Linked DNA regions of Homo sapiens: region 2 is linked to region 1. The links come from fine-mapping of genetic effects on plasma protein levels. A gene starts in region 1. The other region holds a variant in brackets. All regions are shown on one strand. Distances are from middle to middle. Region 1 holds the start of CCL16 (C-C motif chemokine ligand 16). Region 2 overlaps SLFN12L (schlafen family member 12 like).

What was found. A credible set is the group of variants that fine-mapping cannot tell apart. PIP is the chance, under the fine-mapping model, that this variant and not a neighbour inherited with it causes the effect. Sun 2018 read protein levels with aptamers (SomaScan).
Region 2: its variant is the best candidate, but not a certain one, in a credible set for the plasma level of the CCL16 protein (Sun 2018, PIP 0.87).

What each region holds. Positions count from the first base shown.
Region 1 is chr17:35,980,252-35,983,157 of GRCh38, reverse strand. CCL16 (C-C motif chemokine ligand 16) reads left to right here and starts at 1,661. Exons shown (of 3, transcript NM_004590.4): 1 at 1,661-1,813. The coding sequence starts at 1,738. RefSeq lists a silencer at 851-1,146 and an enhancer at 851-1,146.
Region 2 is chr17:35,533,354-35,536,259 of GRCh38, reverse strand. The region is part of intron 1 of SLFN12L (schlafen family member 12 like); the gene reads left to right. Among named protein-coding and RNA genes, the nearest start is that of SLFN12L, 2.9 kb to the left of the region's middle. The variant C/T (reference allele first, on the strand shown) is at 1,640.

The DNA.
Region 1 (2,906 bases):
TTTACTAACTTTTTTATCCCCTAGAAGGCTTAGCAGAAAGCCTAGCCCATACCAGGTGTTCAGGAAATGGATGGATGGATGGATGGATGAAGGAAGGGAAGAATGTGTGGATGGAAGGATGAAGGGAAGGAGGAATGGATGGAGGGAGGGAAGCAGGGAGGGATGAAGGGAGGGAGGAAGGGAGGAAGGGAGGGAGGAAGGGAGGGAGGGATGGATGGATGGATGGAGAGAAAGAGGGAGGGAGGGATAGAGGGACAGATGGAATAAGACAGAAATCAAGAGGAGGACTATGCTCCAAGAATAAGCTCTCAAACCTATCTTCAGGGCCCAAGGAGGAGCTCTGTGTACTTGGAATAAGAGCTTGCCCAGAGTAGGGATTATGACCACCCTTTCCTGGCCTCCAGCCTTCCACAGATAAGGAAGGGCTTGTGGGCCACATTAAGGGCCATATGGGGGCCTGCATGCCAAAGTCACAACCAGGCTTCTCAGGCCTTGTCACCTCCATAAACAGAGGTCAAGAGGATGCCCCACATACGTACCCTCCCTGCCCTCACAAAAAGCCACAGCTTCACCACCAGGTGAAGCCTTGAACCCACCAGGAGTAACTGCATTATACGGTTTACCTATCTATGAGCAGTCATGCCAAGCAGAAAGCCCCATAAGGATCTGCACAGTCCCTGTTTCTGCCCCTGCCTCCCACTGCCCTCAACACCTGAAACACATCACCTATGCCTCTAAAGCTTGCTGTCCATCAACAGCAAAATCCCTTATATCTTTGATCTCTTCTCTAAATGCAGCTTTCAACATGGAAAAGGGTCCTGAGGCACCTGAAGAGAGAGGAAGCTGTGGGACAGGTCCAGCCAGAGCCCAGGCCAGAGGGGCAGAAGCTGGAGTCCTGGAGCACAGACGCAGGTTGTCAGGTGCACAGAGTTGGAGGGTCCCCTGCTGGTCATGGTTGGCCATGGGGGCACCCAGGAGGGATCAGCGAGCTGGCTACACCTAAAAATCAGTCCAAAGTCCGAGGTCCAAAGAGATAAATAAAAACATTGACAAATAAGTCAAACGGTCCAGCAACAAATGGGGACCCAAGGATCAGGCACATTGTTTTTTTTTTTTTTTGGAGTATTAGCATACACTGTGACAGGAAAGAGTGTGAGCTCAATCATGTGGCCTTGGACTGGGAGAGGGCATTTCCTTCTCAGAGGCAACTAAGCCCTACCTTTGCCTCAGTCTGGGCTCTGTAATCCTGCTTTGTGCTCATCTCCCCAAGACTGATCACCTGGGGGAAGCTGGGGTGGTTCAACCCTGCCTGCCCTTCCCCAACATACAGATGGTGGCAGGTAACATGGTGAAATCAAACAGATCTGGTTTTTCATCCGCCTATCCACCCAGGTGACCTTGGACAATTTATTTAGCCTCTAGGCCTCAGTAGTCCCAGGGAAGTAATAATCGCTATTCACTATTTTAAGGATTATATAAGATAGGGCATGTAAGGTAGCTGACACACATTCGCCCATTTCTTCACGTGAATTCAGATTCTACTGAATTCAGCTCTGCACCAAGTCCCATCCTCTGCTGCCCTCTGTTTCAGCAAACACTGAGGCCTGTTGTTTCTCCTCCTCTACCGGCTCTGATGCGGTCAAGGTCCAGAGAGCTGAGTAGTTGGCAAGCGGACCACCAGCAACAGACAACATCTTCATTCGGCTCTCCCTGAAGCTGTACTGCCTCGCTGAGAGGATGAAGGTCTCCGAGGCTGCCCTGTCTCTCCTTGTCCTCATCCTTATCATTACTTCGGCTTCTCGCAGCCAGCCAAGTGAGTCCACTTGTCTCTGTAGGGCAGGAACGAGAAAGGGGGATGGAGCAGCTGGCAGGGAGGTAGTGCCAAGGGCGCTGTCGGGTCTCTGGCCTCATAAGACCCTGTGGGCTCTCCCCACCTTCATGCATAGCTTCTGACCTCCAATTCTCCCCTTTGTAAGTAGAGCTGGGGTTGGTCCGGATCTTTCTGGGGTAAGTAGTTCCAGGAAACTGGGTCACCATTTCCTCAGGAGTCCCAAGCGTGGTGAGCAGGAATGATCATTCAGGAGGAGAGGCCAAGAAAGCAGCAGAAAATGCAACAAGAAGTGCATGCAATGAAAGGGAGGGGGAGGCACGCGGATGAGAAAGAAAAGTGGCAGGTGCCCTGGAAGAATGAGTGGCGAGAGGAAGGAAGGTTCAAACAATCATGTGGGTCTAAGTCCAGGAATTGGGAGTCTGAACCGAGAGAGCCCTTCCTCAACATGGCTGGCACAGGTTGCTGGGACTATCAGACAACCAAAATGAGTCCCAGTGGAATGGCTGCTTGGGAATCTATGGTCCCCTTCTCCATCCCCCAGCCTATGACTAAATAAAATCTGCAGAAAAGAGGAAAGGGGTTGAAAGGTTTTGGAGCTGTGGGGAAAGGGAGAATTGGGGCCTATGGAGGAGGGGGTTTGTTTTGCCCCTCCGTATCTCCTCCCTCTATCATTGTTTACGAGGACCTGGTGACGGGGGTGGGGAGGACAAAGACGTGTACCTGCCCTAGGCTGCCCCAGCCATTCTTTTCGCTTTTGTTTTTTTGTTTGTTTGCTTGTTGTGTTTTGTTTTGTTTTGTTTTGTTTGTGATGGAGTTTCGCTCTTGTTGCCCAGGTTGGAGCGCAGTGTCGCGATCTCGGCTCACCACAACCTCCGCCTCCCGAGTTCAAGTGATTCTCCTGCCTCAGCCTCCTGAGTAGCTGGGATCACAGGCACACACCACCACGCCCAGCTAATTTTTGTATTTTTAGTAGAGACGGGGTTTCACCATGTTGGTCAGGCTGGTCTCAAACTCCTGACCTCGTGATCTGCCCACCTCGGCCTCCCAAAGTGCTAGGATTACAGGTATGAGCCAC
Region 2 (2,906 bases), 450 kb after region 1:
TAAAATAAATGCTATCACAAATACCAGGGAGATTATTCCAGAATGGTTATTCTTACCAGAGTAATGAAAACTCTCTTGTCTTCCAAGAGGCCTAATAATTTGGGAGACCAGTTTGCACAATGATTAAGAGTCTAGATTTTTGGCCGGATGTGGTTGCTCATGCCTGTAATCCCAGCACTTTGGGAGACCAAGGTGGGAAGATCGCTTGAGCCCAGAAGTTTGAGAACAGCCTGGATAACATAGCAAGACCCCATCTCTACAAAACAAACAAACAAACAAACAAACAAACAAACAAACTAGCCAGGGCCGGGTGTGGTGGCTCACGCCTGTAATCCCAGCACTTTGGGAGGCCGAGGAAGGTGGATCATTTGAGGTCAGGAGTTCAAGACCAGCCTGGCCAACATGGTAAAACCCTGTCTCTACTAAAAATACAAAAATTACCTGGGAGTGGTGGTGCGTGCCTGTCATTCCAGCTACTCAGGAGGCTGAGGTGGAAAGATCACTTGAACCCAGGAGGTGGAGGGTGCGGTTAGCTGAGATCCTGCCACTGCCTTCGAGCCTTGGCGGCAGAGCAAGAATCCATCTCAAAAACAAAAACAAAAAAAGCTAGCCAGGCATGGTGGCGTACACCTGTAGTCCCAGCTACTTGGGAGGCTGAGGTGGGAGGACTGCTTGAGTTCGGGTGGTGAAGGCTGCAGTGAGCTATGACTGCACCACTGCACTCCAGCCTGGATGACAGAGCAAGACCCTGTTGCTTTAAAAAAAAAAAAAGGCTGGGTGCGGTGCTGTAATCCCAGCACTTTGGGAGCCTGAGGTGGGCGGATCACCTGAGGTCGGGAGTTCAAGACCAGCCTGAACAACGTGGAGAAACCCCGTCACTACTAAAAATAAAAAAAAAAAAATTAGCTAGGCAAGGTGGCACATGTCTGTAATCCCAGCTACTAGGGAGGCTGAGGCAGGAGAATTGCTTGAACCTGGGAGGTGGAGGTTGTGGTGAGCCGAGATCACGCCATTGCACTCCAGCCTGGGCAACAAGAGTGAAACTCCATCTAAAAAAAAAAAAAAAAAAGGAGAAAGAGAGAGTCTAGGTTTTGATTAGAAACACTAGCATTTGGAATCAAATACTCCTGGATTTGAGCCTCACCCATATGACTCTGAATATGTCCCCCAACCTCAGTTTCCTCATTGGTAAAATAAAGATAATAGTATTTGTTGTGAGAAAGCAATGAGATAATGTATGTAAAGTTTTTGGTACAGTTCCTGGCTCAATAAATGTTAGCTCTTTCAGCTCATGAGGAGCACCACAAGCATTAACCTTCCTACTATGCCCTTTGTTTTTATTTGCTCTTGATTGATTAGCTCTTCCTGTATCAGAACTCTTGATCCCAGGCCTTGATAGAGATTTCTGCTTTTGGCTGCTTAAGCTTTGGCATATATCCAGGTTCTCTCTCCACATTTGGATCCTTTCTCCCTTTCAATGTTTGGCTAAGCTATGGTTTTTAATCTGGGGTGAGAAGCAGTATCTCATAAACAGCTCCCGCCAGTGACTGGGCCCATTCTGGTTCTTATCCATTGGATTGAGATGGAAGAGGAGCAATTGAAATAATAGACATGAATTCCCATCAATTGCCAGGTCCCT[C/T]GGCTTACTTCTAAATCTCTCTCAACTCTGCCGGCTTAATTCTAAATCTCTCTCAACTCTGCCTACTTCTCCACTGTCCCCACCTTAGTCCACATCACCATCTGTTCTCATTTGGGCTGCTGAAACCATATCCTGAAAGGTCTTTTCCATGACTGCTCTAACCTGCTTCAGCTAGAAAGGACTTTGAAAAATGTTCATCTGATGCTGTGTCTTCCTGCTTAACAACCTCCAATGGCTTCCCATTACTTTTTGTTTTTTTTGAGACGGAGTCTTGCTCTGTTGCCAGGCTGGAGTGCAGTGGGACGATCTCAGCTCACTGCAACCTCCGCTTCCCGGGTTCAAGAGATTCTCCTGCCTCAGCCTCCCGAGTAGCTGGGACTGCAGGCATGTGCCACCATGCCCGGCTAATTTTTTGTATTTTTAGTAGAGATGGGGTTTCACCGTGTTAGCCAGGATGGTCTCCATCTCTTGACCTCATGATCTGCCCACCAGGGCCTCCCAAAGTGCTGGGATCACAGGCATGAGACACCGTGCCCAGGCCTTTCTTTTGAGACAGAGTCTCCTTCTGTTGCCCAGCCTGGAGTGCAGTGGCATGATTTTGACTCACTGCAAACTTTGCCTCCCAGGTTAAAGCAATTCTCGTGCCTCAGCCTCCCAAGTAGCTGGGACTACAGGTGCAGCCTGGTTAATTTTTGTATTTTTAGTAGAGATGAGGTTTCACTATGTTGGCCAGGCTGGTCTCGAACTCCTGACCTCAGGTGATCTGCCCGCCTCGGCCTCCCAAAGTGCTGGGATTACAGGCGTGAGCTATGGTGTCTGGCCAGCTTCCCATTACTCTTAGGGTAAAGCCAGGAACCCTTAAAGTGGCTTACCAGACAATGCACAGCTGGACACCTGAGCATGGTTCCAACCTCATCTCCTGCCTCTATCCTTCCAGCTCTGTGCTGTCAGTCTTTTGAACTTGACATACTCCTTCTTACTTCTGTCTAGAAAATTCTTCCCCCCCTTCTTCACCAAATTAACTCTTCACCTCATTTGCATTCTTCAGATCTTAACTCAAATGTTACTTTTTCTGGAAATCCTTCTCTGAACCCATTCCCTCTCCAACTGCCAGGTGAGGGCAGTGTTTCCATTCTAAGCTCCCCTGACATTCTAAACTTTTGTCCATAGGAGTCACTTGTTTACTGTCAACCTCCTCAAGAACAGGGACCAGGTTTGTTTTGTTCACCACTGTCTTTTCTGGATTTAGCACAGTGCTAGGCAAATA